Regions from separate parts of the Homo sapiens genome. Here region 1 is linked to region 2. The links come from fine-mapping of genetic effects on gene expression. A gene starts in region 2. The other region holds a variant in brackets. All regions are shown on one strand. Distances are from middle to middle.

Region 1 (16,263 bases), 26 kb before region 2:
GGATATCAGATTGAAGATCAACTTAATGAAATAAAGTGTGAAGACAAGATTAGAGAAAAAAAGAATGAAAAGGAACAAAGCCTCCAAGAAATAGGGGATTATGTGAAAAGACCAAACCTACATTAGATTGGTGTACCTGAAAGTGACAGGCAGAATGGAAACAAGTTGGAAAACATCCTTCAGGATATTATCCAGAAGAGTCCCCAACCTAGCAAGACAGGCCAACATTCAAATTTAGGAAATACACAGAACACCACAAAGATACTCCCTCGAGAAGAACAACCCTGAGACATAATCGTCAGATTCACCAAGGTTGAAACAAAGGAAAAAAAGTTAAGGGCAGCCATAGAGAAAGGCCGTGTTACCCACAAAGGGAAGCCCATCAGACTAACAGCTGATCTCTCTGCAGAAACCCTACAAGCCAGAAGAGAGTGGGGGCCAATATTCAACATTCTTAAAGAGTTTTCAACCCAGAATTTCATATCCAGCCAAACTAAACTTCATAAGTGAAGGAGAAATAAAATTGTTTACAGAGAAGCAAATGCTGAGAGATTTTGTCACTGCCAGGCCTACCTTACAAAAGCTCCTGAAGGAAGCACTAAATATGGAAAGGAAAAACCAGTACAAGCCACTGCAAAAACATACCAGATTGTAAAGACCACCAATAGTATGAAGAAACTGCATCAACTAATGGGGAAAATAATGGGCTAGCATCATAATGACAGGATCAAATTCACACATAACAATATTAACCCTAAATGTAAACAGGCTAAATGCCCCAATTGAAAGACAGAGACTGGCAAATTGGATAAAGAGTCAGACATATCAGTGTGCTGTAATCAGGAGACCCATCTCAAGTGCAAAGACATATATAGGCTCAAAATAAAAGAGACGGAAGAATATTTACCAAGCGAATGGAAAGAAAAAAAAAAAGCAGGGGTTGCCATCATAGCCTCTGATAAAAGAGACTTTAAACCAATAAAAATCAAAAAAGAGACAAATAAGGGTATTACATAGTGGTAAAGGGATCAATGCAACAAGAACTAACTATCCTAAATATATATGCACCCAATACAGGAGCACCCAGATTCATAAAAGAAGTTCTTAGAGACCTTCAAAGAGACTTAGACTCACACACAATAATAGTGGGAGACTTTAACACCCCACTGTCAATATTAAACAGATCAACAAGAGAGAAAATTAACAAGGATATTCAGGACTTTGAACTCAGCTCTGGACCAAGCAGACCTAATAGACATCTACAGAACTCTCTACCCCAAATCAACAGAATATACATTCTTCTTAGTACCACATCATACTTATTCTAAAATTGACCACATAATTGGAAATAAAAGACTCCTCAGCAAATGTACAGGAATGGAAATCATAACAGTCTCTCAGACCACAGTGCAATCAAATTAGAACTCAGGATTAGGAAACTCCCTCAAAGCCACACAACTACATGGAAACTAAACAACCTGCTCCTGAATGACTACTGGGTAAATAACGAAATTAGGGCAGAAATAAATAAGTTCTTTGAAACCAATGAGAACGAAGACACAATGTACCAGAATCTCTGGGACACAGCTAAAGCAATCTTTAGAGGCAAATTTATAGCACTAAATGACCACAGAAGAAAGCAGGAAAGATCTAAAATTGACACCCTAACATCACAATTCAAAGAATTAGAGAAGAAGAAACAAATTTAAAAGCTAGCAGAAGACAAGAAATAAGATCAGAACAGAACTGAAGGAGACAGAGACATAAAAACCACACACACCCCCAACCCCGCCAAAAAAAAAAAAAACAAACACACACACACACACACACACAGAAAAAACAAAAACAAACAAAAAACAATGAATCCAGGAGCTGGTTTTTTGAAAAGATCAACAAATATACAACTAGCCAGACTAATAAAGAATCAAATAGATACAATAAAAAATGATAAAGGAGATATCACCATTGATCCCACAGAAATATAAACTACTATCAGAGAATACTATAAACACCTCTATGCAAACTAGAAAATCTAGAAGAAATGGATAAATTTCTGGACACATATACCCTCCCAAGACCAAACAAGAAAGAAGTTGAACCCATGAAGAGACCGATAATAAGTTCTGAAACTGAGGCAGTAATAGCCTACCAACCAAAAAAAAGACCAGGACAAGACAGATTCACAGCCAAATTCTACCAGAGGAACAAAGAGGAGCTGGTACCATTCCTTCTGAAACTATTCTGAGCAGTGGAGAAAGAGGGACTCCTCCCTAACTCATTTTACGATGCCAGCATCATCCTGATACCAAAACCTGGCAGAGACATGACAAAAAATTCAGGCCAATATCCCTGATGAACATCGATGCAAAAATCGTCAATAACACACTGGCAAACCAATTTCAGCAGCACATCAAAAAGCGTATCCACCACAATCAAGTCGGCTTCATCCCTGGAATACAAGACTGGTTTAACACATGCAAATCAATAAACATAATCCATCAAATAAACAACCAATGACAAAAACCACATTATTATCTCAATAGATGCAGAAAAGGCCTTCGATAAAATGCAATAGCGCTTCACGCTAAAAACTCTCAATAAACTAGGTATTGATGGAACATCTCAATAAGAGCTATTTATGACAAACCCACAGCCAATATCACACTGAATGGGCAAAAGCTGGAAGCATTCCTTTTGAAAACTGGCACAAGACAAGGATCCCCTCTCTCACCACTCCTATTCAACATAGTATTGGAAGTTCTGGCCAGGGCAATCAGGCAAGGGAAAGCAATAAAGGATATTCAAACAGGAAGAGAGGAAGTCAAATTATCTGTTTGCAACTGACACGATTGCATATTTTAAAAAGCCCATTGTCTCAGCCCAAAATCTCCTTAAGCTGATGAAACAACTTTAGCAAAGTCTCAGGACACAAAATCAATGTGCAAAAATCACAAGCATTCTTATACACCAATAAAGGCAGAGCCAAATCATGAGTGAACTCCCATTCACAATTGCTACAAAGGGAATAAAATACATAGGAATACATTTAAGAGGGATGTGAAGGACCTCTTCAAGGAGAATTACAAACCACTGCTCAAGGAAATGAGAGGACACAAACAAATGGGAAAACATTCCATGCTCATGGATAGGAAGAATTAATATCATGAACATGTCCATACTGCCCAAAGTAATTTATAGATTCAGTGCTATCCCCATCAAGCTACCAATGACTTTCTTTGCAGAATTAGAAAAAACTACTGTAAATTTCATATGGAACCTAAAAAGAGCCTGTACAGCCAAGACAATCCTAAGCAAAAAGAACAAAGCTGGAGGCATCATGCTACCTGACTTCAAACTATGCAAGGCTACAGTAACCAAAACAGCATGGTACTGGTATCAAAACATATATAGACTAAAAGAACAAGAACAGAGCCCTCAGAAATAACACCACACATCTACAACCATCTGATCTTTGACAAACCTGACAAGAACAAGCAATGCTGAAAGGAATCCCTATTTAATAAATGGTGTTGGGAAAACTGGCTATATGCAGACAACAAACCGGACCCCTTCCTTACACCTTATACAAAAATTAACTCAAGATGGATTAAAGACTTAAACGTAAGACCCAAAACCAGTAAAACTCTAGAAGAAAACCTAGGCAATACCATTCAGGAGATAGGCATGGGCAAACACTTCATGACTAAAACACCAAAAGCGATGGCAACAAAAGCCAAAATTGACAAATAAGATCCAATTAAACTAAAGAGCTTCTGCACAGCCAGAGAAACTATCAGAGTGAACAGGCAACCCTGGGAGAAAATGTTTGTAATCTATCCATCTGACAAAGGGCTAATACCCAGAATCTACAAGGAACTTAAATTTACAGACAAAAAAAAAAAAATCAAAAAGTGGGCAAAGGATATGAACAGACATTTCTCAAAAGACTACATTTATGCAGTCAAACACGAAAAAAGCTCAACATTACTCATTAGAGAAACGCAAATCAAAACCACAATGAGATACCATCTCATGCCAGTTAGAATGGCAATCATTAAAGTCAGGAAACAACAGATGCTGGAGAGAATGTGGAAAAATAAGAATTCTTTTACACTGTTGGTGAGAGTGTATTAGTTCAACCATTGTGGAAGACAGTGTGACAATTCAACAAGGATCTAGAACCAGAAATACCATTTGACCTAGCAATCCCATTACTGGGTATATACCTGAAGGATTATAAATCATTCTACTAAGACAACACATGCACACATATGTTTATTGTGGCACTATTCACAATAGCAAAGACTTGGAACCAACCCAAATGTCCATCAGTGATAGACTGGATAAAGAAAATGTGGCACATATACATCATGGAATACTATGCAGCCATAAAAAAGCATGAGTTCATGTCCTTTGTAGGGACATGGATGAAGCTGGAAACCATCATTCTGAGCAAACCATTGCAAGGACAGAAAAACCAAACACCACATGTTCTCACTCATAGGTGGGAATTGAACAATGAGAACACTTGGACACAGGGTGGGGAACATCACACACCGGGGGCCTGTTGTGGGGTGGGGGGATGGGGAAGGGATAGCATTACGAGAAATACGTAACGTAGATGGATTGATGGGTGCAGCAAACCACCATGGCATGTGTATACCTATGTAACAAACCTGCACATTCTGCACACATATCCCAGAACTTAAAGAATAAAAAAAATTGTGGTTTTTGCATTGTTGGAATTTGCTGTTTGATACTAGAATACATTCTTAAATAAATGTGATTATATTATGTATCATTTTAATGGGCATTTCTCACTTTATTTTGCTAGTGACTTATTACTTGCTGTTTATTTTATGTTTATTTTAGACTGGAAATTACATTAGACAAAAAGCAAATTCGAGTGATTTTCTTATTCGAGTTCAAAATGATTTGTAAAGCAGCAGAAACACACAACAACAAAAACACACTTAGCCCAGGAACTGCTGACTAATATACAGTGCAGTGGTCGTTCAAGAAGTTTTACAAAGACAAGAGCCTTGAAGATGATGTAGTGGCCGGCCATCGAAAGTTGACAACTACAAATTGAAAGCAATCAAAGCTGATCCTCTTACAAGAAGTTGCCAAAGAACTCAACATCGATCATTCTACAGACGTTTAGCATTTGAAGCAAATTGGAAAGGTGAAATAAGTGGTACCTCATGAGCTGAGCAAAAAATCAAAAGAACCATGAAGTTTCATTTTCTCTTATCCTATGCAACAACAATGAACCATTGCATGATTTGATTGTAACATGCAACAAAAAGTGAGTTTTATAAGACAACTGATGAGGATCAGCTCAATGGTTGGACCAAGAAGCCCCAAAGCACTTCCCAAAGCCAAATTTGTACCAAAAAAGGTCATGGTCACTGTTTGGTGATCTGCTGCTGGTCTGATCCACTACTGCTTTCTGAATCCCAGCAAAATCACATCTGAGAAGTATGCTCAGCAGATATATGAGATGCACTGAAAACTGCAATGCCTATAGCAGTCACTGGTCAACATAAATGGCCCAGTTTTTCTCCACAACGCCCAGTTGCACGTTGCACAACCAACACTTCAAAAATGGAAGGAATTGTGCTACAAAGTTTTGACTCATTCGCCATATTCACCTGACCTCTCACCAACCACCTACCACTTTTTGAAGCATCTGACAACTTTTTGCAGGGAAAATGCTTCCACAACCAGCTTGATACAGAAAATGCTTTCTGAGAGTTCATAGAATGCTGAAGCATGGATTTTTATGTTATAGGAACAAACTTATTTCTCATTGGCAAAAATGTGTTGGTCGTAATCGTTCCTATTTCGATTAACAAAGATGTGTTTAATACTAGGGAGTTTTTCTCGGTGTGGTAGTTAGAGTTGGAAGAATCAAAATAATTATGAAAACACACCATGAAATAAGTGAATAAATCAAATAATTACTAACAATGACAATTCTTAAGAAACTGAAACAGAGGGTTGAGAAGGAGACAGATAATGGGGACTGGGAAGCTACGCTGAATAGAGTGACACAGGGATGAAGACCTCACTGAGAAGATGAGACTGAAGCTAAGAACAAAATGATGAGAGAGAGGGGGTGACATGGTGCTCTAGGGAACCTCTGCTCAGACAGGTACTATTCTTGGCGTGACTCAAGTACTTTCCTAAAGGAGAACTTGACAAGGACACGGTCATATTGTTGCGGGGGGAAGGGGAGTGAGTCTCAGGAGATTCGATTTGGAGCCAATGCCTCTGCTGGACTTCTCCCGGGACGTGGGAGAAGTAAGCCAGAGACAGGAGATGAGACTTGGCAGTGTGATTTAGACTTGCGCATGCTCTTAACCATGACACCTGCTTCTGGTTCCAGAAATGTAGTGTCGCACTTAAATGTGCTCCCCTACCCGTTACACCTAAAAACAGTAAAAGTCTCTGAAATGTTGAGAAAAGAAGGCAGACTGTCTAGGGACCTAGACCCCAGGACTGAAGAGATGACTGGGCAGTAAGTCCTCTGGATCTTTTTGCCTCCTGTATATCCTGGACTGGGCACTGAGGAGGCTCATGACCTAGAAACACCAGTGGGCACAGTCAGCAAAACAAAGCAAACAAAGGTGGAGAAACAGGATGAGGTGGCTGTCTCTGGGCAGGAGAGTCAAACATGGCTAATGAAAAATGTAAGATGGTGCAGCCACATTGAAAAACAGTGAGGCAGTTTAACAAGTTAAACATACACTTATTCTAGATCCCAGAAGTTCCATTCCTAGACAACCACCCAAAAGAAAAATGTAGATTCACAGACTCCTACACAAATGTTCATTGTACCAATACTATTCATAATAGCCAAAAACTAGAAACAATCTAAATTCCGTTCACTGGTGAATAGAGAAACAGAACGCGGTACATCCATACAATGGAACAAATACTTCTCAATAAGAAGGAGCAAACTATTGGTACAGGCAAGAACAAAAATTAACCACAAATATTTTAATCAAGTAAAAGTCAAATATTTAAAAAATTATTGTTTGACTTGATTTTTATAAAATTTCTGGAAGAGGTGAAGCTTTATAGACAGAAAGTAGGTTACAGGTTACTTAGAGCTGGTGTTGGGAGGAGAGATTGCCTGCAGATGGGCACAGAGAATTTTTTTGGGGTGATGAAAGTGTTTCAAAATGAGATTGTGGTTATAGGGCCAAAAAGGGAAATCTTACCTCTTTATCCTTTGAAATTTCACTGAAAATGAATGAACAAAAAAAAAATTATGAGGAGCGAAAAGGCATATAAGTTTATTTTTATGTGTATAGAATGGAAGAATTGCAGAAGAATCATGACCTAATAACCCAGGTGAGGTCCAGGTGCTTATATACCTCACTTCATGGGAGAAGGGGAGGTGAGGAAATAGGCGGTATGGGAGTCAATGATTTTCAGGAGAGATGAATGGACCTGGGAGGCAAAGATCATCCTGTAGTCTATTTACTTTGGATGTTGGGAGCACAGAACAAATAACAATTTGGGACAAAGTTGGTTTAGGCTGTAAATGTTGGTGTTTAATTTTCAGTCTCTTCCTCTGTTACATAAGTTCTAATCCTCTTTGGTTAATGAAATTTCAGGGAGAGATTGAAAGCAATTGTGTTCCTCTTTGTGAGTCCAGTTTCTAGGTAAAGAAACTTCAGAAAAGAGCCTAATCTTGCACTTCTTGGGAGACAAAGGGAGGAAAGGTGGGAGGAGGGGAGGGGTATGGTGGGGGAGACCCTGAGCCTGCTGTCTCAGTTCAGCCTGTCAAAGCTCCCTACCTTGGGGTATCATTTTCCACTTTGTAGTATGATTTTCTGAGCCTTAACACAGGGATGATTGCAGAACTCTAGACATTTGCTAAAACTCATAGAACTGTATGTTAAAAATTGGTGAGTTTCATGATATATAAATTACACTTCAATAAAGGCGCTGGCACACAGCAGTAAGTATTGTTGTTGTTACTGTTCTGATAACCTCAGCATTTGTCTAACTTCCTGCGGCATGAAAAACAGGAATGGAGACAATTTTAGGCAGGAGGAGCTGCACAGCAGAGTTCATTTGGTCTGGGGGATGGTGGGTAGGGGTGCCCTGGGGCTGAGAGCAGGAGGATCTGCTGTCTTTAGTGGGTTCTGAGTACTCCCTACTGCTCTCTTACATGCTGGGTGTCTCCTCTTTTCCTACAGTTCACACACGTAGAACACCCAAGGCTAGGAAAGGAGAAAACTTGGGGTGCTGATGGCAGCAAGCTTTTCAGTATTAAAGGGAGCTGTGTTCTCTGAAGTTGGAGTGTCTTCAACTGTGGCTTATCCCCCCTTCAGCAAGCACAGGTCCCATGGCATAGATTCTGAGGAAGACCTTGGTGAAGAATGCGCACTCCTAGCTCAGACCAAACTCTGCAACCTTAGCAAAGCTGGATATTTGATCTGTTGCATTCTTCTGATCATGTGTTACAACCTACAAATGGTAGAGCCATTGGCACTCAAACACCTGATGTTTTTCCCTGGTGTAATCCATGCCCCAGAGACAGGAAATTCTCCCTTGGTCTTCCAGGCCACAGTTTGGGAAGGTGTTTATCCCTGGGACCAGGGGCTTCAAAATTCAGCAATAATTACTGATATGATTTGGATATTTGTGCACTCCAAATCCTATGCAGAAATGTAATCCCCAGTGCTGGAGGCAGGGCCTGGTGGGACGTGATTGGATCATGGACTGGATCACTCATGAATGGTTCAGCACCACCCCCATGTGATTAGTTCTCGCTTTGAGTTCATGGGCACCTGGCTGTGTAAAGTGTGGCACCTGCCCCCTCACTCTCTTGTTCCCACTCTTGTGGTGTGAGACACAGGCTCCCCCCTTACCTTCCGCTGTCACTGTAAGCTCCCTGTGGCCCTCCCCAGAAGCAGATGCCAGCACCATGCTTCATGTCCAGACTGCAGACCATGAGCCAATTGAACCCCTTTTCTTTATTAATTACCCAGTCTCAGGTATTCTTTCATCATGATGCAATTGCCCTATTACCATCACTCCCA[T/C]ATCCTAGTTTCAAGGAAGGCTGTTGTTTTAGTCCCAGCCCAAGCGAACATGTGAAAATATAGCCTCACAAAGTGAATATGGAACTCTTATTCTTATATGCCTGACTTAAAAAAATAGTGTAAAGTGAGGAGGAGCCAAGATGGCCGAATAGGAACAGCTCCGGTCTACAGCTCCCAGCGTGAGCGACGCAGAAGACGGGTGATTTCTGCATTTCCATCTGAGGTACCGGGTTCATCTCACTAGGGAGTGCCAGACAGTGGGCGCAGGCCAGTGTGTGTGCGCACCGTGCGCGAGCCGAAGCAGGGCGAGGCATTGCCTCACCTGGGAAGCGCAAGGGGTCAGGGAGTTCCCTTTCCGAGTCAAAGAAAGGGGTGACAGACGCACCTGGAAAATCGGGTCACTCCCACCCGAATATTGCGCTTTTCAGACCGGCTTAAGAAACGGCGCACCACGAGACTATATCCCACACCTGGCTCAGAGGGTCCTACGCCCACGGAATCTCGCTGATTGCTAGCACAGCAGTCTGAGATCAAACTGCAAGGCGGCAACGAGGCTGGGGGAGGGGCGCCCGCCATTGCCCAGGCTTGCTTAGGTAAACAAAGCAGCCTGGAAGCTCGAACTGGGTGGAGCCCACCACAGCTCAAGGAGGCCTGCCTGCCTCTGTAGGCTCCACCTCTGGGGGTAGGGCACAGACAAACAAAAAGACAGCAGTAACCTCTGCAGACTTAAGTGTCCCTGTCTGACAGCTTTGAAGAGAGCAGTGGTTCTCCCAGCACGCAGCTGGAGATCTGAGAACGGGCAGACTGCATCCTCAAGTGGGTCCCTGACCCCTGACCCCCGAGCAGCCTAACTGGGAGGCACCCCCCAGCAGGGGCACACTGACACCTCACACGGCAGGGTATTCCAACAGACCTGCAGCTGAGGGTCCTGTCTGTTAGAAGGAAAACTAACAACCAGAAAGGACATCTACACCGAAAACCCATCTGTACATCACCATCATCAAAGACCAAAAGTAGATAAAACCACAAAGATGGGGAAAAAACAGAACAGAAAAACTGGAAACTCTAAAACGCAGAGCGCCTCTCCTCCTCCAAAGGAACGCAGTTCCTCACCAGCAACAGAACAAAGCTGGATGGAGAATGATTTTGACGAGCTGAGAGAAGAAGGCTTCAGACGATCAAATTACTCTGAGCTACGGGAGGACATTCAAACCAAAGGCAAAGAAGTTGAAAACTTTGAAAAAAATTTAGAAGAATGTATAACTAGAATAACCAATACAGAGAAGTGCTTAAAGGAGCTGATGGAGCTGAAAACCAAGGCTCGAGAACTACGTGAAGAATGCAGAAGCCTCAGGAGCCGATGCGATCAACTGGAAGAAAGGGTATCAGCAATGGAAGATGAAATGAATGAAATGAAGCGAGAAGGGAAGTTTAGAGAAAAAAGAATAAAAAGAAATGAGCAAAGCCTCCAAGAAATATGGGACTATGTGAAAAGACCAAATCTACGTCTGATTGGTGTACCTGAAAGTGATGTGGAGAATGGAACCAAGTTGGAAAACACTCTGCAGGATATTATCCAGGAGAACTTCCCCAATCTAGCAAGGCAGGCCAACGTTCAGATTCAGGAAATACAGAGAATGCCACAAAGATACTCCTCGAGAAGAGCAACTCCAAGACACATAATTGTCAGATTCACCAAAGTTGAAATGAAGGAAAAAATGTTAAGGGCAGCCAGAGAGAAAGGTCGGGTTACCCTCAAAGGAAAGCCCATCAGACTAACAGCAGATCTCTCGGCAGAAACCCTACAAGCCAGAAGAGAGTGGGGGCCAATATTCAACATTCTTAAGGAAAAGAATTTTCAACCCAGAATTTCATATCCAGCCAAACTAAGCTTCATAAGTGAAGGAGAAATAAAATACTTTATAGACAAGCAAATGCTGAGAGATTTTGTCACCACCAGGCCTGCCCTAAAAGAGCTCCTGAAGGAAGCGCTAAACATGGAAAGGAACAACCGGTACCAGCCGCTGCAAAATCATGCCAAAATGTAAAGACCATCGAGACTAGGAAGAAACTGCATCAACTAATGAGCAAAATCACCAGCTAACATCATAATGACAGGATCAAATTCACACATAACAATATTAACTTTAAATATAAATGGACTAAATTCTGCAATTAAAAGACACAGACTGGCAAATTGGATAAAGAGTCAAGACCCATCAGTGTGCTGTATTCAGGAAACCCATCTCACGTGCAGAGACACACATAGGCTCAAAATAAAAGGATGGAGGAAGATCTACCAAGCCAATGGAAAACAAAAAAAGGCAGGGGTTGCAATCCTAGTCTCTGATAAAACAGACTTTAAACCAACAAAGATCAAAAGAGACAAAGAAGGCCATTACATATTGGTAAAGGGATCAATTCAACAAGAGGAGCTAACTATCCTAAATATTTATGCACCCAATACAGGAGCACCCAGATTCATAAAGCAAGTCCTCAGTGACCTACAAAGAGACTTAGACTCCCACACATTAATAATGGGAGACTTTAACACCCCACTGTCAACATTAGACAGCTCAACAAGACAGAAAGTCAACAAGGATACCCAGGAATTGAACTCAGCTCTGCACCAAGTGGACCTAATAGACATCTACAGAACTCTCCACCCCAAATCAACAGAATATACATTTTTTTCAGCACCACACCACACCTATTCCAAAATTGACCACATAGTTGGAAGTAAAGCTCTCCTCAGCAAATGTAAAAGAACAGAAATTATAACAAACTATCTCTCAGACCACAGTGCAATCAAACTAGAACTCAGGATTAAGAATCTCACTCAAAACTGCTCAACTACATGGAAACTGAACAACCTGCTCCTGAATGACTACTGGGTACATAACGAAATGAAGGCAGAAATAAAGATGTTCTTTGAAACCAATGAGAACAAAGACACCACATACCAGAATCTCTGGGACGCATTCAAAGCAGTGTGTAGAGGGAAATTTATAGCACTAAATGCCTACAAGAGAAAGCAGGAAAGATCCAAAATTGACACCCTAACATCACAATTAAAAGAACTAGAAAAGCAAGAGCAAACACATTCAAAAGCTAGCAGAAGGCAAGAAATAACTAAAATCAGAGCAGAACTGAAGGAAATAGAGACACAAAAAACCCTTCAAAAACTCAATGAATCCAGGAGCTGGTTTTTTGAAAGGATCAACAAAATTGATAGACCGCTAGCAAGACTAATAAAGAAAAAAAGAGAGAAGAATCAAATAGACACAATAAAAAATGATAAAGGGGATATCACCACCGATCCCACAGAAATACAAACTACCATCAGAGAATACTACAAACACCTCTACACAAATAAACTAGAAAATCTAGAAGAAATGGATACATTCCTCGACACATACACTCTCCCAAGACTAAACCAGGAAGAAGTTGAATCTCTGAATAGACCAATAACAGGCTCTGAAATTGTGGCAATAATCAATAGTTTACCAACCAAAAAGAGTCCAGGACCAGATGGATTCACAGCCGAATTCTACCAGAGGTACAAGGAGGAACTGGTACCATTCCTTCTGAAACTATTCCAATCAATAGAAAAAGAGGGAATCCTCCCTAACTCATTTTATGAGGCCAGCATCATTCTGATACCAAAGCCGGGCAGAGACACAACCAAAAAAGAGAATTTTAGACCAATATCCTTGATGAACATTGATGCAAAAATCCTCAATAAAATACTGGCAAACCAAATCCAGCAGCACATCAAAAAGCTTATCCACCATGATCAAGTGGGCTTCATCCCTGGGATGCAAGGCTGGTTCAATATACACAAATCAATAAATGTAATCCAGCATATAAACAGAGCCAAAGACAAAAACCACATGATTATCTCAATAGATGCAGAAAAAGCCTTTGACAAAATTCAACAACCCTTCATGCTAAAAACTCTCAATAAATTAGGTATTGATGGGACATATTTCAAAATAATAAGAGCTATCTATGACAAACCCACAGTCAATATCATACTGAATGGGCAAAAACTGGAAGCATTCCCTTTGAAAACTGGCACAAGACAGGGATGCCCTCTCTCACCACTCCTATTCAACATAGTGTTGGAAGTTCTGGCCAGGGCAATCAGGCAGGAGAAGGAAATAAAGGGTATTCAATTAGGAAAAGAGGAAGTCAAATTGTCCCTGTTTGCAGACGACATGATTGTTTATCTAGAAAACCCCATTGTCTCAGCCCAAAATCTCCTTAAGCTGATAAGCAACTTCAGCAAAGTCTCAGGATACAAAATCAATGTACAAAAATCACAAGCATTCTTATACACCAACAACAGACAAACAGAGAGCCAAATCATGGGTGAACTCCCATTCACAATTGCTTCAAAGAGAATAAAATACCTAGGAATCCAACTTACAAGGGATGTGAAGGACCTCTTCAAGGAGAACTACAAACCACTGCTCAAGGAAATAAAAGAGGACATAAACAAATGGAAGAACATTCCATGCTCATGGGTAGGAAGAATCAATATGGTGAAAATGGCCATACTGCCCAAGGTCATTTACAGATTCAATGCCATCCCCATCAAGCTACCAATGACTTTCTTCACAGAATTGGAAAAAACTACTTTAAAGTTCATATGGAACCAAAAAAGAGCCCGCATTGCCAAGTCAATCCTAAGCCAAAAGAACAAAGCTGGAGGCATCACACTACCTGACTTCAAACTATACTACAAGGCTACAGTAACCAAAACAGCATGGTACTGGTACCAAAACAGAGATATAGATCAATGGAACAGAACAGAGCCCTCAGAAATAATGCCACATATCTACAACTATCTGATCTTTGACAAACCTGAGAAAAACAAGCAATGGGGAAAGGATTCCCTATTTAATAAATGGTGCTGGGAAAACTGGCTAGCCATATGTAGAAAGCTGAAACTGGATCCCTTCCTTACACCTTATACAAAAATCAATTCAAGATGGATTAAAGATTTAAACGTTAAACCTAAAACCATAAAAACCCTAGAAGAAAACCTAGGCATTACCATTCAGGACATAGGCGTGGGCAAGGACTTCATGTCCAAAACACCAAAAGCAATGGCAACAAAAGACAAAATTGACAAATGGGATCTAATTAAACTAAAGAGCTTCTGCACAGCAAAAGAAACTACCATCAGAGTGAACAGGCAACCTACAACATGGGAGAAAATTTTCGCAACCTACTCATCTGACAAAGGGCTAATATCCAGAATCTACAATGAACTCAAACAAATTTACAAGAAAAAAACAAACAACCCCATCAAAAAGTGGGCAAAGGACATGAACAGACACTTCTCAAAAGAAGACATTTATGCAGCCAAAAAACACATGAAGAAATGCTCATCATCACTGGCCATCAGAGAAATGCAAATCAAAACCACTATGAGATATCATCTCACACCAGTTAGAATGGCAATCATTAAAAAGTCAGGAAACAACAGGTGCTGGAGAGGATGCGGAGAAATAGGAACACTTTTACACTGTTGGTGGGACTGTAAACTAGTTCAACCATTGTGGAAGTCAGTGTGGCGATTCCTCAGGGATCTAGAACTAGAAATACCATTTGACCCAGCCATCCCATTACTGGGTATATACCCAAATGAGTATAAATCATGCTGCTATAAAGACACATGCACACGTATGTTTATTGCGGCACTATTCACAATAGCAAAGACTTGGAACCAACCCAAATGTCCAACAATGATAGACTGGATTAAGAAAATGTGGCACATATACACCATGGAATACTATGCAGCCATAAAAAATGATGAGTTCATATCCTTTGTAGGGACATGGATGAAATTGGAAACCATCATTCTCAGTAAACTATTGCAAGAACAAAAAACCAAACACCGCATATTCTCACTCATAGGTGGGAATTGAACAATGAGATCACATGGACACAGGAAGGGGAATATCACACTCTGGGGACTGTGGTGGGGTCGGGGGAGGGGGGAGGGATAGCATTGGGAGATATACCTAATGCTAGATGACACATTAGTGGGTGCAGCGCACCAGCATGGCACATGTATACATATGTAACTAACCTGCACAATGTGCACATGTACCCTAAAACTTAGAGTATAATAAAAAAAAAAAAAAAAATAGTGTAAAGTTTCCTCTTCAAAGTTTTCCTTGTGAAAGAATAAATCATAAATGTTAGAAATGATAGTTTCTTTTAAAGACTAACTTCCTTCAAGCCTCCTTGCTTTATGCTAATAACTTTGTTAAGCCCTAGGCTATACAGCTGTTAGACATGCTCACAGGCAAGTTGTACATCCTATGTCCTTGTACCTTAACCAAGATATTTGTGTTGGACGTGCTCATAGGCATGCCCCAGCTCACAGCCTATGCCCCTTTCTTATTTGGGAATATTACTTTTCTACCTATTTAAAAAAGCTTAAAATTAGCCAATCGGGTTTTAATTTAGATTGTGAGGTCTGGCTCCAGCCAGCGGAGACAGGACGGACACAGCAATAGGGACCTCATGCGTAAGGAATAGATACCCTGATGTCTCTTTATTCTATGTGTGTCCTCACCATTGTTCCATCTGCAAGGGGTACCCTTTCTGCAGAAAGTAAAAATTGCCTCACTGAGAGAACTTTTTGTCTGAATGCTGATTTTTCCTTGTGGCACAAAAGAAGAAACATTTTGCATTTCTAACACTAGGAACACTGATTTCCACGTAAAAAATACTCAGTAAATATTTCTGGAACTGAATTTCAGGTAGGATATCTAACCCCACCTATTAATCCTAACCTCTGGCAAAGGTGGCTTCAATCTTGTGAATGCTTAAGAAGCCTTAATGAGATTTAAGGAACAAATCTCAGGAACAAATAAGTTTATATTTGTTCTAGTTATCTGCCTCAGTGAACACCGTGACAATTACATAACCCAGCATTCTCGTCCCATCAGCCTGAACTACTTAAGGTGGCGGATTTCATTGATAACCTCCCAGAGGATGCAGGGCCAGGGTCATCCTGACTGACACTCCTGTCTGCTCAGTGCCCCTCCTCCTCCCTCTCCTGCTCTGCTGTAGCCCAGGAGGGCAGCCTCTTCAGCCCAGGGTACTGCCTTCTCTGCCCGCAGCCTTCCAGGTGGGCTTGGCCACTGTGAGGTGCTGCTGAGAGCAGAAAGGGAAGCCA
Region 2 (16,263 bases):
ATCAGAAAAGGCTCCCTGAAACCATACAGTGCAGACACAGGGAGAAAAGGGGACAGAGGAACAACACAAGCTCCGTGGGGCAGCTGCCCCCTGGTGTCCCTGGTGTATCACAGGCATTTGGATTAGGATGCACAGTACGTGGTGCATGAAGATTGTTGCCCAAAGGAATGAATGTCCATCTGGAAGAGGAGGGTTCTTACCCCGGCAGCTCCCCTGGGGAGCTTTCAAGAAATGCAAATGCCTGGGCCTCACCCTGGGAGACGCTGAATGAGGAAGCCAGAGGTAGGCTTTTTTTTTGAGACAGAGTCGTGCTCTGTCACCCAGGCTGCAGTGCAGTGGCAGGATCTCGGCTCACTGCAAGCTCCGCCTCCCGGGTTCAGGCCATTCTCCTGCCTCAGCCTCTCAAGTAGCTGGGACGACAGGCGCCCGCCACCACGGTCGGCTAATTTTTTGTGTTTTTTAGTAGAGACGGGGTTTCACCATGTTAGCCAGGATGGTCTCGATCTCCTGACCAAGTGATCCACCCGCCTCGGCCTCCCAAAGTGCTGGGATTACAGGCATGAGCCACCATGCCTGGCCGTAGGGTCTTTATTTTTAAACAAAACCAATAAAAAGCTGAAGGAAACCAAAGTATTTCAGCCTAATATGGGTCTTTCTTTGACATATTTTGAGGTGGCTTTTCAGAGGGACTGCCAACAGAAACAGCCCTGGAAAGCTGGCTTTGGCATGGGAGAGTTGCATCTGGATAGAATCTGCCTCGATGCAGCCTGGCTTCCTCAGAGGCCCTCCCTTAGAGCTAGGGATGATTAACTGAGAGTCTGATACCTTTAAAGACCTGAAACCTTCACGTCTTCTCTCTGAGGGCTGCTCCCTATGAGGTTTCAGCTACACAACAAGACCACCTTTGCTAGGCAGGCTTCCTCTTCTCTCCCTCTCATAACTTATTTGCCCACCATAGCATGTTTTGTGCCATGCTCTCCACTCCATTCTTTTGGTAACCTCAAGATACTACATAAACTTCTGAACCCAGGTGAGGGAGGGGTTGGGTTAATCACCCTGATTCTGTCCTTTGCACACTAATACCTTTGTATGCCTGTTCTCTTATTAATCTGCCTTTTGCCAGTTAATTTTCCAGTAATACTTTTTCAGAGGCAAAGGGGATGGTTTCCCTCCGTCCCTACAAAACCAACAAACACAAAAATGTGTGCTATTTTGACCTGTTGCCAGGGTTTCAACCTTGCATTAGAGTTTCAGTAAACCTGTTTTTTCTTTTCTAGGATTCTTAGTCCCTGTACTTGTGCTAACTTCAAGTTCCTTCGGTGGATTTTAGTTCATCTCAGCTGTGCTGAAGGAGAAACAAGGCCACACAGTCTTGTCACCTCTGCTCTGGGTGTGAGGACAGCATGGAGATCATCAGGTCAACGCAAGTAAGATGAGGACTTGGGCCAGGAAGCAGAGAGAATGCTGGGCCGCTGTCCTTTTCTTCATGGGATGGTGTTTAGACAACATTCTCTGGTGACAAGGACTCTCTTCTTGCCCAAACCCTAGTCAGGCTCCTCTGGGCTCCTTTTTCAGTGAGGCCCCATTTTGGGGTGTGTCCCAAGACCCCAGTTTTAGCAAGAATCCTGTTACCTCAATTCAGCCAGAATCCCCCACCCTTGATGTCTATCAATCACCCTCAGCTTCAATATCTGGCCAGGTTCTTTGTCCCTCACCATCCCCAAGGAATTTGTGGCCACCCTGAGCTGCCTTCTACAGGAATCCTGTTAGGTTGGTTGAGTCAGAATGCCCCTTACCCTGGGCACTTTGTCCTAGTGATCCTCCATCTCCTGCCCCCACCCTGCTTCTTGGCTTTCCTTTAGTTGCACACTCCTGTTTTCAACAGTCATGCCCAGAATTTTAGCCAAGAAAAATTAGAATTCGGACCAAACTGTAGAAAATAATAAAAATTTAAAAACATTAAGCAAGACTAGAACCTAACAACAGGTGTACTATAGTTTTTGAAACATAATTTTTTCTCTCTCCAATTTCCCATTTTTACTAAAGACAAATCATGGTAGGACTGATTTGCTTTATTATACTTGGCCTGATTATTTGTATACAGTACAGCAAGAATAATTATTTTTTTACATAGGCTTTTAAATTGGCTTTGATGGAACTTTGTTCCACAGAAGGAATCTCAGATAATATTTTTTTGAAGTGAAACCCAGCCATGGATTTGTACCATCAAACACCTATGCGTGGGTGAATTTCTCTCCTCTTGAGATCCCAAGATAAACTTGGGGCTCCTGGACCTGTCAGAAAGTTACATTTTTTACTTACCACAGATCAGGAACCCTGTACAGGCACTGCGTAGACAAAGTATGAGGCCAGTTTTCCCAAGGGGCTTTTATTGTCTCCATAAGTCAAGTTTGATTCCTGAAAGAAAGCACAGCGTGCCAGTCAAAGCCTTGGTAAAATAACCAGTTTCTCCAATTGTGTCCTGTTTCAAATAAAAACATATTCTTATTGCACTTATGCAAATAACTGTATTGCCATAAGTTAAGAATACTAATAAATAGTTTCCAAATTCTGGAGAAATCAGGTAGAGAGAAAGAAATAAGCTCCAAATTTTGTTCACGGGAGTATACTAAATTGTTAAAAGCTGCCAATAGCTCAAAAGAAAAGCTTCCTTGACTCTGAAAAATACAGAACAAAGGATCAGCAATGTTTTAAGCAAAAAGTCAAAAAGATTACTTCAGTCTTCTATTAGTTCAGTTCATGCAGCTAATTCCTGCTCTGCTTGATATTCATGAACATTTCAGCTCTCCATGAGTTTTCAAAGTTTTTCCTCTATTCTGATGTCACAGTCTTCAAAGTTATCAGAAACCTGCATTCAAGAGCACCTGTTAGAGTATTATAGTTCTATAAACCACCTTCTAAAGAGGAGCAAAACAAGAAACAATTGTCTGTGGATGACAAAAAGTTTTAGAGCAGCCATAGTCAAAAACACAATTGACAGGGAAATTTGTTACCTCTGTGGCACACCATAATTTAACATGACAATGATTATTACTGATAATGTATACTAAGTTATATCAGAGTTATATGAGTTTCCCATAATTTTGGAACACATGCCAATTACATATTTATACAAATACAGCCCAAAGATAACCAAACACCATTTCATGTTTGACAATACTTCCTGTATAATTTTTACACCAAGTGAGCCAAATTTCATTTTTAGATTTTAGGGAACCTAATATCTTAAAGGATTAATTAGGTCTGAAAAAGAAATAATTTATAATTTGATTTGGAAAGTTTGTCAAATATCAATGGTTTAAAACACTTGATATTACAGGTCATTGTAAAATAAGTCATTCATTTAACCAAAGTGATAACACAAGGATTCCAAAAAAAGGCAAAAACCTTTTTTCTTTGAGAGAGAAGACTTAATTTTCCAAACTATAAGCCCTAATAAAAACAGTGTGATACCAATTAAATCTGTTTTTCAAAATTTTATTAACAATTTATGAACTTTTAATCTTGACAATAGGATATAACTTTCTTAAGCCTTTTATAACCTTTATAACCTTTATTAAGGAGTCAGTTAATGCTTCACTAAAACCTTGTTAATCTGTCACAGGGGGCCATATTCTTGTCTTGCATCAGTGTGCCTTTGACATTAATGATTAATTTACAGAGAAATTGAACTTATTTTGTCTCTCAAAATTGGCCCTTTCAATCTCACACACCCACCTCTTCCACAATAGTCCTGGGGCCTTGAGGAGTTGAATAGCTTTTATTTCTGGCCCTATGTCTCAGGAATGCAATTTATTTTGATTGGCATCTTCTACTGCGCCTGAAGATGAGGCTTTAATTGTTGTCAGTGTTTAAGATGTAGCAGGACTTGGTGTCCTTTATAGATCCAGGAGTCAAAGCCCTGTAACTCAATGTCACAAGGACTTTAAAAGCACATACAGAAAGATATACAGATGTAATAACCTTACTTTTTTAAAAATTTGTTCTAATCTCAGTTTTTTTTACATTCTAAGCAAACCAAAACTTAATGATAATGGCATAGGAATTCTCTCAATAAACTGTAAAATCTCTTAGGCCATTTACCAAAAGGCAAAAGAAAAGACTTTCTGCACTGCACGGAATATTATGCTGGAAGAAAAAATCTCCTTTAGACTTTGAAGAAAAATTGTTGAGTAGACTCCAGAGGACATGAAAGCCATTGATGTCCTCAACAGAAATTTCCAATATGCTAAGTTACAATTGTAAGTGATGCCTGCAGATTCTTTCACAGGCTGTTTCTGTAGTATGCAGACAAACAGAGGAATAAATCTTCCCTAAATCAGAGGGACAGGCCTAATTTCAGGAATAGGCATGAAACAGGAGCTTCCCTGTAGCCCTCAGACCAGAGGTTTCCTCCAGGGCTCAATCTCTGACCCAACAGGAATATGAGTTCCTAACTGAAACTGCCAATGTTTGCACCATTGTAAATCCACTTCTTTGATGCCCTCACTAATTATTAAAATAACATGCAAATTATAGAAAATTTAGAAAATACAAGGGAAAAGAGAATGTCACTGACAGTTTCTACAGGGTCAATGAAGGGGGTCGAATGCAGAAGTAAAGACAAAGACGAAAAGACCTATTTTGAAAGAGGGGGTCAGGGGCTCCTTGCTTCTAGAGAGCAAAGGCAGCCCTGAGTTTCTACAGTCTTTCATATTTGTTAGGTAGAAAGAGCAGGGAGGGAGAGCTAATGGTTGGTCCACTGCTTGATTTATCACAGGTCCACATAATTGCTTTCTTTGTACAACAGGCTTCAGATGTTCCTATAGATAATCACAAGGAACACTGTGCATGAGGCCTGACTGCCCTCAGCACCCCTTCTGGCGGCAGACACAGTTATCAGTTTTCCAACATCCTGCTTTCATAAGAACAGTTTTCTGTTTGCTCATATAGCCTCCAGTGGTATACTGAGTTGGTCACAACTCTCATTCTTTCAGCCTGTAACAAGAGAACAAAAATAAGCTGTAATATTCCCATTGAAAAATACTTAATGTGTATCCACCTACATGATTTTCCTATACAAATGTGTATGTTTGGAGTTTTTAGGACTTTTAAAAAATTATTTTTTTAACTTTTATGTTCAGGGATACATGTGCAGGTTTGTTATATAGGTATGCTTATTACCTGGGTGACTAAATAATTTGTACATCTCCTGCCATGACATGAAATTTACTCATGAAACAAACCTGCACATATACCCCTGAACTTAAAATAAAAGTTGGAAAGAAAAAGATGAAAAAGAATGGTTCAAATATGATGAAAGACATGAATCTACAAATACAAGAAACTTGAAGATCTGCAGAGAGAATACACTGAAAAAGACCCAGACCCACATACATTATAATCAAACTCTCAAAAGCCAAAGACAAGGAGATCATTTGAAAAGCCGCAAGAGAAACATAACTCATGAGGTACAAGGAATTCTGGATGAAGTTATCAGGAGATTTCTTATCAGACACCTTGGAGGGCATATGAGATTATATATATTTTTTAATTGGTAAAAGAAAAAAGAAAACTTGCCAACCAAGAATTCTGTATCTGACAAAAATGACCTTCAGAAATTGGGAAGTTATAAAGACAATGTGATATAAACAAAAGCTGACAGAGCTCATTGCCACTAGAACTACTCTACACGAAATGCTTAAGGGAGTAATTCACTATGAAATAAAAGAATGTTAGATTAGATGGTTATGTAAAGTCGTATCAAGTATAAAGACCTCTCATCAAGGTAAATATGGGACAAAATACAAAAACATGTATTTTTGAAAGTTTTGTTTATACTAGCTTTCTGTTCAAGTTTTAAAATTTGGCTGAGTGCAGTGGCTCATGCCTGTAATTCCAGCACTTTGGGAGGCCAAGGCAGGTGTATCATGAGGTCAGGAGATCAAGACCGTCCTGGCTAACATGGTGAAACCCCATCTCTACTAAAAAGTATAAAAAATTAGCCAGGCATGGTGGTAGGCGCCTGTAGTCCCAGCTACTTGGGAGGCTGAGGCAGGAGAAGGGCATGAGCCTGGGAGGCGGAGCTTGTAGTGAGCCAAGATTGTGCCACTGCACACCAGCCTGGGCAACAGAGCAAGACTCTGTCTCAAAAAAAAAAAAAAATTTAAAATTCAAATGTGTACAAATAACTATAAATCTATGTTAACATGTACACAATGTATGAGGTTGTAATTAGTGACATCAGTAATGTGAAGTTGAGAGAAACACAGATGTGGAAAAGGGGAATTTATGTACAGAATTAAATGTGTATTGATTTCAAAGGAGATTTTATAACTCTAGGATGTTTTATGTCATTTTCATGGTAACCACAAAGAAAACAATTATAGAATATACACAAGTGAAAATGAGAGGGAAATCCAAGTGTCCCTAAAAATCAATCAGTGACACACACAAAAAAATGTTAGTAATGGAGGATATGAAGAACAAAATGCTATAGACATACAGGAAAAGAAAAATATTAAAATGCAAAATTAAGTTGCTGTCACTAATTATAGTTATCTGTCATTTAATGATAAGAATACATTCTGAGAAATGCATTTTTAGGCAATTCAAGCATCATGTGAACACCATAGAGTGAACTTACATGAATCTAAATGGTATATTCTACTATAGGCTTTCTGGTCTAGACCATTGCCTGTAGGCTATAAACAGTAGAGTGCAGCATGTTCCTCTACTGAATACTATAAGGCAATTGTAACACAATGGTATTTGTGTACATAAACATATAAAAGGAGCAGTAATAGGTTTTGTAATCTTATAAATCCACTGTTGTATATATGGTCAATCATTGACCAAAATGTTGTTATGCAGCACATGAATATACTTTAAATGTAAATGGATTAAACCCCCACACCAAAAGGCAGATCAATTTGCAAAATGGATTAAAAGAAACAAGATCCAACTATATACTCAGCACTAGAAACTCAGTTTGCATCTATAGATGTGACTAGTATGAAAGTGAAAGACAGAAACAGATATTCTATAAAAACAGTGACAAAAAAGAGCTGTGGTGGCTATACTAGGACCAGGAAAAATAAAATTTAGTCAAAAACTGTGATAAGATATAGACAACATATTATATACAAGCATATCTCAGAGATATTGCAAGTTCAATTCTAGACTACTGCAATGCAGCAAATATGACAATAAAATGAGTCACACAAATATTTAGATTTCCCAGTACATATAAAGTTATGTTTACACTATACTGTCATATATTTAGTGTGCAATAGCATTACAGCTAAAGAAAAAAATATGCATGCATTTGTTAAAAATATTTTATTTCTGAGAAATGCCAATAGTCATCTGAACCTTCAGCAGGTCATAATCTTGTTGATAGTGGAGGTTTTAGATATGATGTCGATGCCTCCTGACTGACCAGGGTGGTGGTTACTAACGGGTGAGGTGGCTGTGGTCATTTATTTAAAATAAAATAAAATAAAATAAAGTTTGCTGCATTGATTGAGTCTTTCATGTGAGATTTCCTCTTTCATTTACACACACACACACACACACACACACACACACACACTATATGTTTTGTTTCTTGGGACAACCCTGACTAATATAGATTTTGGTATCTGGAGCAGTTCTAGAGGAATAGAATTTTGAGTTTCCTGAATTGGTTTTGGGGTTTCTGGCATTGTCAGTCTAATCAGATTAGACTTGAAAATGCGAAGGACTTTATTTCCAATAATGAAGAGAGCACTGATAGTCCATGATATGAAGTATTTATAGAGTGCACAAAACATCTGCATTGATACTCTACTTAACAACTTAAAAGAGGCAAAAAAAATAGTGACTCTGTATGTGATACTTTCAAACATTTGTGGAAAACTAAGAATAGAATGATGTTGGTTAGTTGCACCTCATATTGCTGGAAAGAGGAAGAAAAAAAAGGGTGAGCTCAGGAATTCAAAATCCTGGATTAAGCACACATGACCTAAGAGCTTCTAGGTGTGCGCTGAGTGAGAATCCTATGTCTTACAGCCACAGGGCTGAAATTGCTGAAAATCAAATGCAAGTGACACCAAAAGCACAGTCAACAGAGGAAAACATAGATGAATGAGACTTCATAAATTAAAACATTTTTGCATCAAAAGAGACTACTAAGCATCAGAAAGCAACCTATAGAATGGGATAAAAATATTTAGTTGCAAGTCATATTTCTGATGAAGCTGAATACCATGAAATTTCCTGGCAGATGCCCAGCACTCTCAACTTCATCCCAAGCTGCCTTTACTCAGCTGCCAAGACACTTCTTGGTGTCTTCAGACTTCTGTGTGAAGTTTCTCCAGAGTTAAACCCTGCATGTACCCCTAACTTGATGTAAAATTTGGATTATGATATCTTCTGATTGTACACAGATCAGACTTCCTGTTCTATCATGATTTCCCTTCTCTCCTGAATTCAGAATATTTTCTGACAGTCTTTGGATTTATACTTTGATCTAATCCTGGTGACTCCCAACTAGACTAATTGGAAATGCTACAACTGGTGAAAATTTTGTTTCCAATGTCCTTGTTATAGGAACAGAACTATGTTGCTTCATTCGCATCACGCCAGGCAATTCAGTATATTCTCTCAACGATATTCAAAAGTAAACTCTGTTTCTCTTCTCTGTGTGTGTGTGTGGATTGGTTTGGTTTTATGAGAAGGAGTCGTCCAGGCTGGAGTGCAGTGGTGCCATCATAGCTTACGTAGTCTCAGCCACCTGGATTCAGGTGATCCTTCCACCTCAGCCTCCCTATTAGCTGGAACCACAGGCGCATGCCACCTCGCCCGACTAATTATTTTATTATTTGTAGAGACAACGTCTGTGGCCCAGGCTGGATGTGTGTTTTAAGACTAAAATCTTTTAGACACCACCAAAATAAAACAACTCTGAAGTGCCTGTGACACAGGATAATCCCTAGGATCATGTGAAGGTGGACAAAGTACCCTGGTTACTTCCCTCTCTCTCCACATCCGTTTCCTCCCTTCTGTATTTTGGGGATACTATCCACTCCTCTTTCGTGCTACTGTGCTCCAGGAGAAATAAAAACATGGGACAGAATAAATCTTTCTGGGTTCACACTAACAGCCTCTCAGGGTTGGAGGGGAGCTTGAAGGCCAAATTAAACCAAGTAATTGGGGAAAGTATCAGACAGCAACAGGAATAAAATGTGAAGTCCATGGATAAACACCTTTATTATGCAAGGAGTTTATCCTAATCTATAAGAAAATGTCTGGTTCTCAAAAACAGAATTCAACAGACTTTTCCTCTGGCAAACCTGCATTTCAAACATCACTGGGAATTCATCCAGTTGTCTTCAATGAGAATCATTTCAACATGTCCTGCAGCAAATAACTCCACTGTTGGTGCTTTGATAGTTAGAAAACTCCTCTATATGGTGCAAATAATTTTCAATCCACAAATTCAGATGAGTAAGAAGAAAGAAAAGTTACCTGTTTTCTTGAAATTAAACTTCTTTAGGCTGTTGCAACCTTGATCCTCCTTGTCAAATGCCAGCTGAGGATCTGATGGCCTCACAAACGGACCCAAGGTTTTGGGTGGTCCCTCCGGGTGTCCTGCTCTGTTTCTGTGGAGACACTCATGGCTCCCAGAGCTTAGCCCCATTCAGGCCCAGCTGCTTTGCCTTCCGTGAACATCACTCCAGCTCCAGAGGGAAAAGGGATGGTTTCCACCTTCAGATATCAAAGTCTAAATAGGGATATGGGAGAGCAACAAATGAAAAAGGCTTAACATAATGGCCTGTAAAAGTAAAGAAGGATGGTCATTGGGTGGTAACTGTGCTAGGAGACAAAACCCCACCATCCAGACATTTTTCTTCCTCTCCAGGCTATGGAGATTTTCTCTCAGACAGTGTCTGGAAGATCCCACAAAATGACACAAAAATATTGGCATTCACAACAGAAACCAATCAAGGACTCTTGCTCAACTGCACTGAAAGTTAGAGTAACTTATCCTATGTGGTCACAAACTTTGGAAGTTGTCTCTTAACACAGCTGTGCTTGTCATCTCTAAAGCACTCTGCTTGGTCCTCCCAGACCAAGATAAACTCTAACCTCACAGAGAGCGGCTTAAAGTTGACAGTAGGCTCAGTACATCTGAGCAAGGCAACCCTGTACTCACTGTCCAATAAACTTAGTATTTCTTCTGGCTAACTCAAGGGAAATTATAGTGCTGATAATAGCAATGACACCAACGCTACTAGCTAAGATTTTGAGTTTCTATTCTGTATCAGGCAAGACTATCAGGGAATCCTCTCAAATACCCTACAAAGTAGATTTAACTTGTAACTTATTTTACAGAAAAGGGAACAAAAAGGGTTACTTACTTGTCCAAGGTGATTTGAAGAAGAAACTGTGTCCTGAATATGAGCTCTCAGTGAGTGAAGATTCCTAAAGACTTTTTTAGATCCATGCCTTTTGTGCATTATTTGTTATTTTAATATCACTCAATACTATAGCCGACCCCTAGAATCTACTGGAGCCATGCTGTCAGGATGACTCAGCAGTTTTCACACATTCTGACCACTCTTGTATAGGTACAAAATGCAGGGTGCATTGTAAAGAGAAAATTATTAACTTGGATGGTTGTTTGGATTAGAGTACAGGCAGGTGCAAAAAAAGTAATTCAAATTGGTTTAAAATCCACAAAAATGTGTTAGTCCCATAACAAGAAGTCCAGAGGGAGGGTAAACTCTGGGTGTCATCCATGAGAGTGCAGAATTTCTCTCATCTTCTCCTTTTTCTTCTTCTGTGTATTGATGTCGTCCTCAGGCTGGGTGGAGACTCCACAGCAATTTCACACCTCACCTTGCAATGGGACAATATCCCCTTGAAGAAGAGAAGCAACCTCTCTTCAAAGGCTCCTTCTTAGAAGTGAGAGAAACTCTCCTAGAAGTACCCAGCACAGTGCTTCTTATGTGGCGTTGGCTAAGGCTGGGTCACAACTCTTTATCCACAGTGACTCCTATGCCAACCACAATGAAATTAGCATGGCTGACCTAAACAAATTATTTAAAGTAAAACTGATGTTGGAAAGGCAATCATCTTGACTGCTGAAACCATAGTGAGAAAGTGCTTTTCTTTAAATTAGATGTTTCCAAACTTACTTGTGTAGAATAAGTGGAGTCTGATCAATTTCAATTTAGTATATTATTTAGCCTAATTTTCATACGTAAACTTCTATGGGTATTGAAAGAATGCAAAGAGGAAAGAAGAGAGACCTAATGACAACTCTTGATGAATCAAGAACTTGATAAATCAAGGTATAGTAGAAACTGCAGAGTTAAGAGACTTCATTAATATAAGATGTGTCCAACTGAAGGTTTCATAGATGAAGCACGTTTAAGTAGTAAACATGGGATCCATTGCCTGAAGTATAATCTAGACATCAGTAGAAATTCTGAAGAGTTGAGAATGTTGGCAAACTGAAAAGCTTGAGTTTTCCATATGAACAACAAAAGACAATGTCAACAGATCCTGAGAATAAATTTTAGAATAAAATAATGAAGGGCATGTATCCAGAAGGAGGAAATACAATAGGGTCAAGATTACATCAGCTTTAAAGAAACAGGTATTTATTCATGTGGTTTTCCTCTTGATATCTGAGATAAAAGTCTAGAGTTTCAGGATCCAGTGGCTGGACATAGAATTCTTTCTATTACAAAAATTAGAAAACTAAAGTTTAGTTGCTCTAAATTTACTTACAAAACTAGTGTAGTAGGCTCAGTAATGGCCCCCAAAGACATACATGCCCTTATCTCTGGAACCTGAAAATATGTTACCTTAATGGCAAAAAGGGCTTTCTTTTTTATAATTCGTTCTTTTTAATTGAGTGTCATTAAAGAGTACTTTCTAAGCAGTTAAATGCACCAGGAGCTGTATTAACATAGGGCCACAGAGATGAGTAAGAGGAGACATTCACAGTCTCATGAGGCAGATCACAGATTATACTTAAGGCCTGTGAGTATAGAAAGGTTGCTTTCACATTTTTCTCATTGAAAATGTCTTTTCTTGGAAGCCTGGTATGGTTTTACAAAAAGAAGGGGGACCTTTCAGATGTGTTTTGGAGACTGAGTATTTTCCTAACTAAAATGATATTTCGCCCTGTTTCTAAACTCCCCTCCAAACTTGGCTCTGTTTGATTAGTCATCTTTCTCCTCAACCCTGAGATCCTGCCACAGTTGATCCAATGGAACGTCATGTTTGTGAATAAACTAAAGTGAAGTTATGTTGGGTTCCTTAGAGGTGGGCTTCAGATGGACGAAGATGACACTGGAGTAAGAGTCTTGCCTCGAAGATCCGGAGAAATTCCAGAGGATCTTAACTTGGTGGAGGCCACTGGGGACACCTCAGTCACTAGCACTGAGGGTCTATTAATTTCATAATTCATTTGTCATTCAGCTTAGTGAGATTATATAGCTGAGGAAATGGGAGTTGTGAAGGTAAAGAAAGCCAAGGAAGACAAAAATTTGGAAGAAATAGTTGGTGTCTCGGAAAAGGAATGCCACAGTAAGGAGAAATGTCACTGGACACTTAGGGGAGGCCATGGAAGCAGGGCCCACTGTGACTTCCCTAGGACATATGCACATTTGCTTTCATGGACCAATGCTCTATACAAATATTAAAATTAAGTCTTACATTGCCTTGGTATAGACATGAAGATAGACGAGGCTGGATTCATTATTACATATTCATCATTGTTGTATTCTCTTTTTCTTCTGACTTTAAAATAAATTAAAGCTAGAACATTATCATGGGCTCCTATAAGTATGATGGGTCATAGACACCGTGCCTTCTATTCTAATAGGCAGTGGCCCTGCGTGCAGGACCGGGCACAGGTAGTAAGGGCACTAAAGAAGTGCATTCATGGCGGGGCACAGTGGCTCATGCCTGTAATTCCAGCACTTTGGGAGGCCGAGGTGGGCAGATCACGAGGTCAGGAGTTCGAGACCAGACTGGCCAACATGGTGAAACCCTGTCTCTACTAAAAATACAAAAATTAGCTGGGCGTGGTGGCAAACGCCTATAATCCCAGCTGCTCAGGAGGCTGAGGCAGGAGAATTGCTTGAACCCGGGAGGCAGAGGTTGCGGTGAGCCGAGATCGTGTCACTGCACTCCAGCCTAGGCAATAGAGCAAGACTTTGTCTCAGAAAAAAAAAAAAAAAAATTGAAGAAGTGCATTCACAATGGTGCAGATGTCAACAGTTTCACTTACTGACTCACATTCCTGTTGGGTCACAGATTGAGCCACATGAGGACTATAGGGAAGCTCCTGTTTCATACCTATTCCTGAAATCTGGCCTGCCTTCCTGATTTAGGGAAGATGTATTCCTCTGTTTGCCTGCATATTACAGAAAACAGCCTGTGAAAGAATCTGCAAGCATGACTTACAATTGTAACTTAGCATATCGGAAATTTCTGTTGAGGCCATCAGTGGCTTTCATGTCCTCTGGAGTCAACTCAAAGTCAAAAACCTGAAAGGAAGAAAACACTCACATTAACCTTTCCCCAGGACAGCAGCTTCTTCCTGGGAATACAAGGCTTTCCGGGGGCAGAGGCAAGGATGGCAGTATGTAAAGTTTCTGTCCTCATTGGCCTCTAGGTGAGACCTCTTCCCCCTGAGTTCTGCTACTTTTCCATCCCACCTCCCTCCTGCTCTGCTCCACTTCTCAAAAGAAAGACAACTTATCAATCTAAGACATTTCTAGAGAATTGCTTGAGACAGAAAAAATAAATTCTTTATACTAAACAAAGGCAAATCTGGACAAAATACCTGCTTCCTTGACTTGATCACACTTGGTCAGGATTTTCCTTACTCACTTCCCCTGGAACTTGACCCAGTCTTTGACTGTGCAAGCCTTGGAACACAAGACAACCTTGCTCCAAGAATGTTTTGGCCTTAGAAAAGCATTTCTTGATCAATTGTTCCACCATACCACTTGCTCACTGCAGGCCCCCAAATACTATTTCCAGCTACTACTAAGTACTACCAAATACTACTTCCTTACAAAACAAAACAAAACAAAAAAAACAAACAACAAAAAAAACCTTTTTTGAATATATTTATCTTACTTAAGCCAAGAGTTGTTTTTATTTGAAAACACATTGACACATAGTCCCCTGATGAAGAATCCCTTAAAGCAAAGAAAAAGATATGTGGTTTAAAAAAATTAAGTTCATTATTTCATGCAGAAGATGGAAAACTCAGAGCCCTATCTATCTATCTCTCCGTCCATCTATGATATACATATCTATCTAATGTGTTTCTCTCTCTCTCTCTACCTATATCTGTCCATTATCTACCTATCCACCCATACATTTACCCATCAGTGATTCATCTTAAAAATATACTCCAGAAATGACATGGTTGTCACAGGGATATGTATTAATATGTTGAGTTAAATTGAAAAATAAAATAAAATAAGATTTTTTTCTGTATGGTAACAAGGTTTAGATTTGCCTATTTGATTTTTGTATAACTTAAAAATTTTAATCTAGAGCTACAAAGTTGTGAAACAAATACATTAGAAAATATGCTTCAAATATCATCCTTTGTAATAACTAAACTCATGTTGATTTTTCTAGCTGCCATCTTTAAATGGAAAACAGCATACATAGTCTTTCAAAATTCTTTTAGAATTCAAAACAAAGTAAATTAAAGACCACTGATTGATCTAATGGATTGGAGTGTATATGAGGAAGGCTTCAGGCAAAATCTTTACTCATTGATTTACTATTAATAATTTGGTCAGTCTATGAAATTATACCTAGCTTCCTACCAGCCCGGGGCACTGCCAGGGGAAAGGTGATAAAAGATGACCCAGAAGGAGTCACAGCATTTAGGGTCTCACAGTCCAGAGAGCACACTGACATCTTAGCAAACAATGTTAAGTTAAAAGGGAAAAGACTCACTAACAGAACCATGCCAGGCACTATTGTGGTGAAAAATGTGCTAGAGTGTCCCAATGGTTATGTATGTATGATATGTAACAAAGCAGGTAATCCTATTTGAGTTTGATCATAAAATACAAATAGAGGTTTGTCAGATAGAGATGGTGAAGGAGAGAAATGAAGGTCCTTAAAGTTCCTTACCATGTAGAACTCCTGAAACTCATGAAAATGATGGAGTTGAAATTTGCTTAGTGTCACACAACTAGTGAGTGGCAAAGCCAGCCCTAGAGGTGATAAACTTTAGGACTGTGAATCCAGTGATCTCTTCGCACTTTTCCATCCTGCCCCCTCCCTTAGCACACAGAGGAGAGAAGCACGGGCATGAATGACATATGGTGCATTCCCCCCTGGAAGAGAGATCACCCAGACCAGCGCCCATGGCTCACTTTGGAGCAACACCACTTGACCTGTACCTGGAAGTTCTCTTTGATTCTCTTCTCAGAGAAGCTCTTGGCCAGGACCACCACCCCCCCGCTGCAGCTCATAGCACAGGGCAACCTGGCCTGGGCTTCTATTGTATTTCTTGGCAATGGATTTCAAGGTTGGCTCCTCTAAGAGATATGGGCTATCTGGGTCCATCCTGGAGAAAAACAACAGATATGAAGAGTATAGATGAAAAATCTAGAGTGTGCTACCCTTTTGCCCAAAGCCCCAGACAATGAGAGAAGACACAATATAGTATGTTTCAAGGTGTCTCATAAATATTCATAGAGATTTATTCGCAATTGTGGCAAACTGGAAACAACTAAACTGCCCATCAATAGGTGAATGGATAAACAACTTGTGGTGTACATGTCCATATAATGGAATATTTCCCAGCAGTAAAATGGAAAGAACAGACACCTGCAACTACAGGAATGAATGTCACAGACAGGTTGAGCAAAAGAAGCTACACCAAAGAATATATATGACTTCTTTACATAAAGTACTACAGCAGACAAAACTAATCTAAGACCGAAAACGTTATGAACATAGTTGCCTAGAGGTGGGGAGGAATTGTCTCAGAAGGAACACCAATTAACATTTTTGGGAGAAAGTTTCCATATCATGACAATAATGTGGATTACAAAGTACATTCATTTATCAAAATTGTACAGCTAACGTATATGCATTACAGTCTATGTAAATTTCACCTTCAAATCACTTTGAAATTGTATTTGGAGTGGGGTTGGGAGAAGGCAGATATACAAATGAAACAGGAGGGAAGGAATGTTGGTGACATTGAAGCTCAGTGGT

Evidence for each region. PIP is the estimated chance that this variant, and not a neighbour inherited with it, causes the effect.
Region 1: its variant is fine-mapped to the expression of LINC02561 in blood mononuclear cells (TOPMed, PIP 0.98).

The regions. Positions count from the first base shown.
Region 1 is chr10:5,236,167-5,252,429 of GRCh38, forward strand. No RefSeq gene overlaps it. Among named protein-coding and RNA genes, the nearest start is that of LINC02561, 27 kb to the right of the region's middle. The variant T/C (reference allele first, on the strand shown) is at 9,063.
Region 2 is chr10:5,261,688-5,277,950 of GRCh38, forward strand. LINC02561 (long intergenic non-protein coding RNA 2561) reads right to left here and starts at 9,549. Exons shown (of 2, transcript NR_149060.1): 1 at 9,511-9,549; 2 at 4,302-4,998. It also overlaps the pseudogene AKR1C7P. RefSeq lists an enhancer at 9,852-11,051.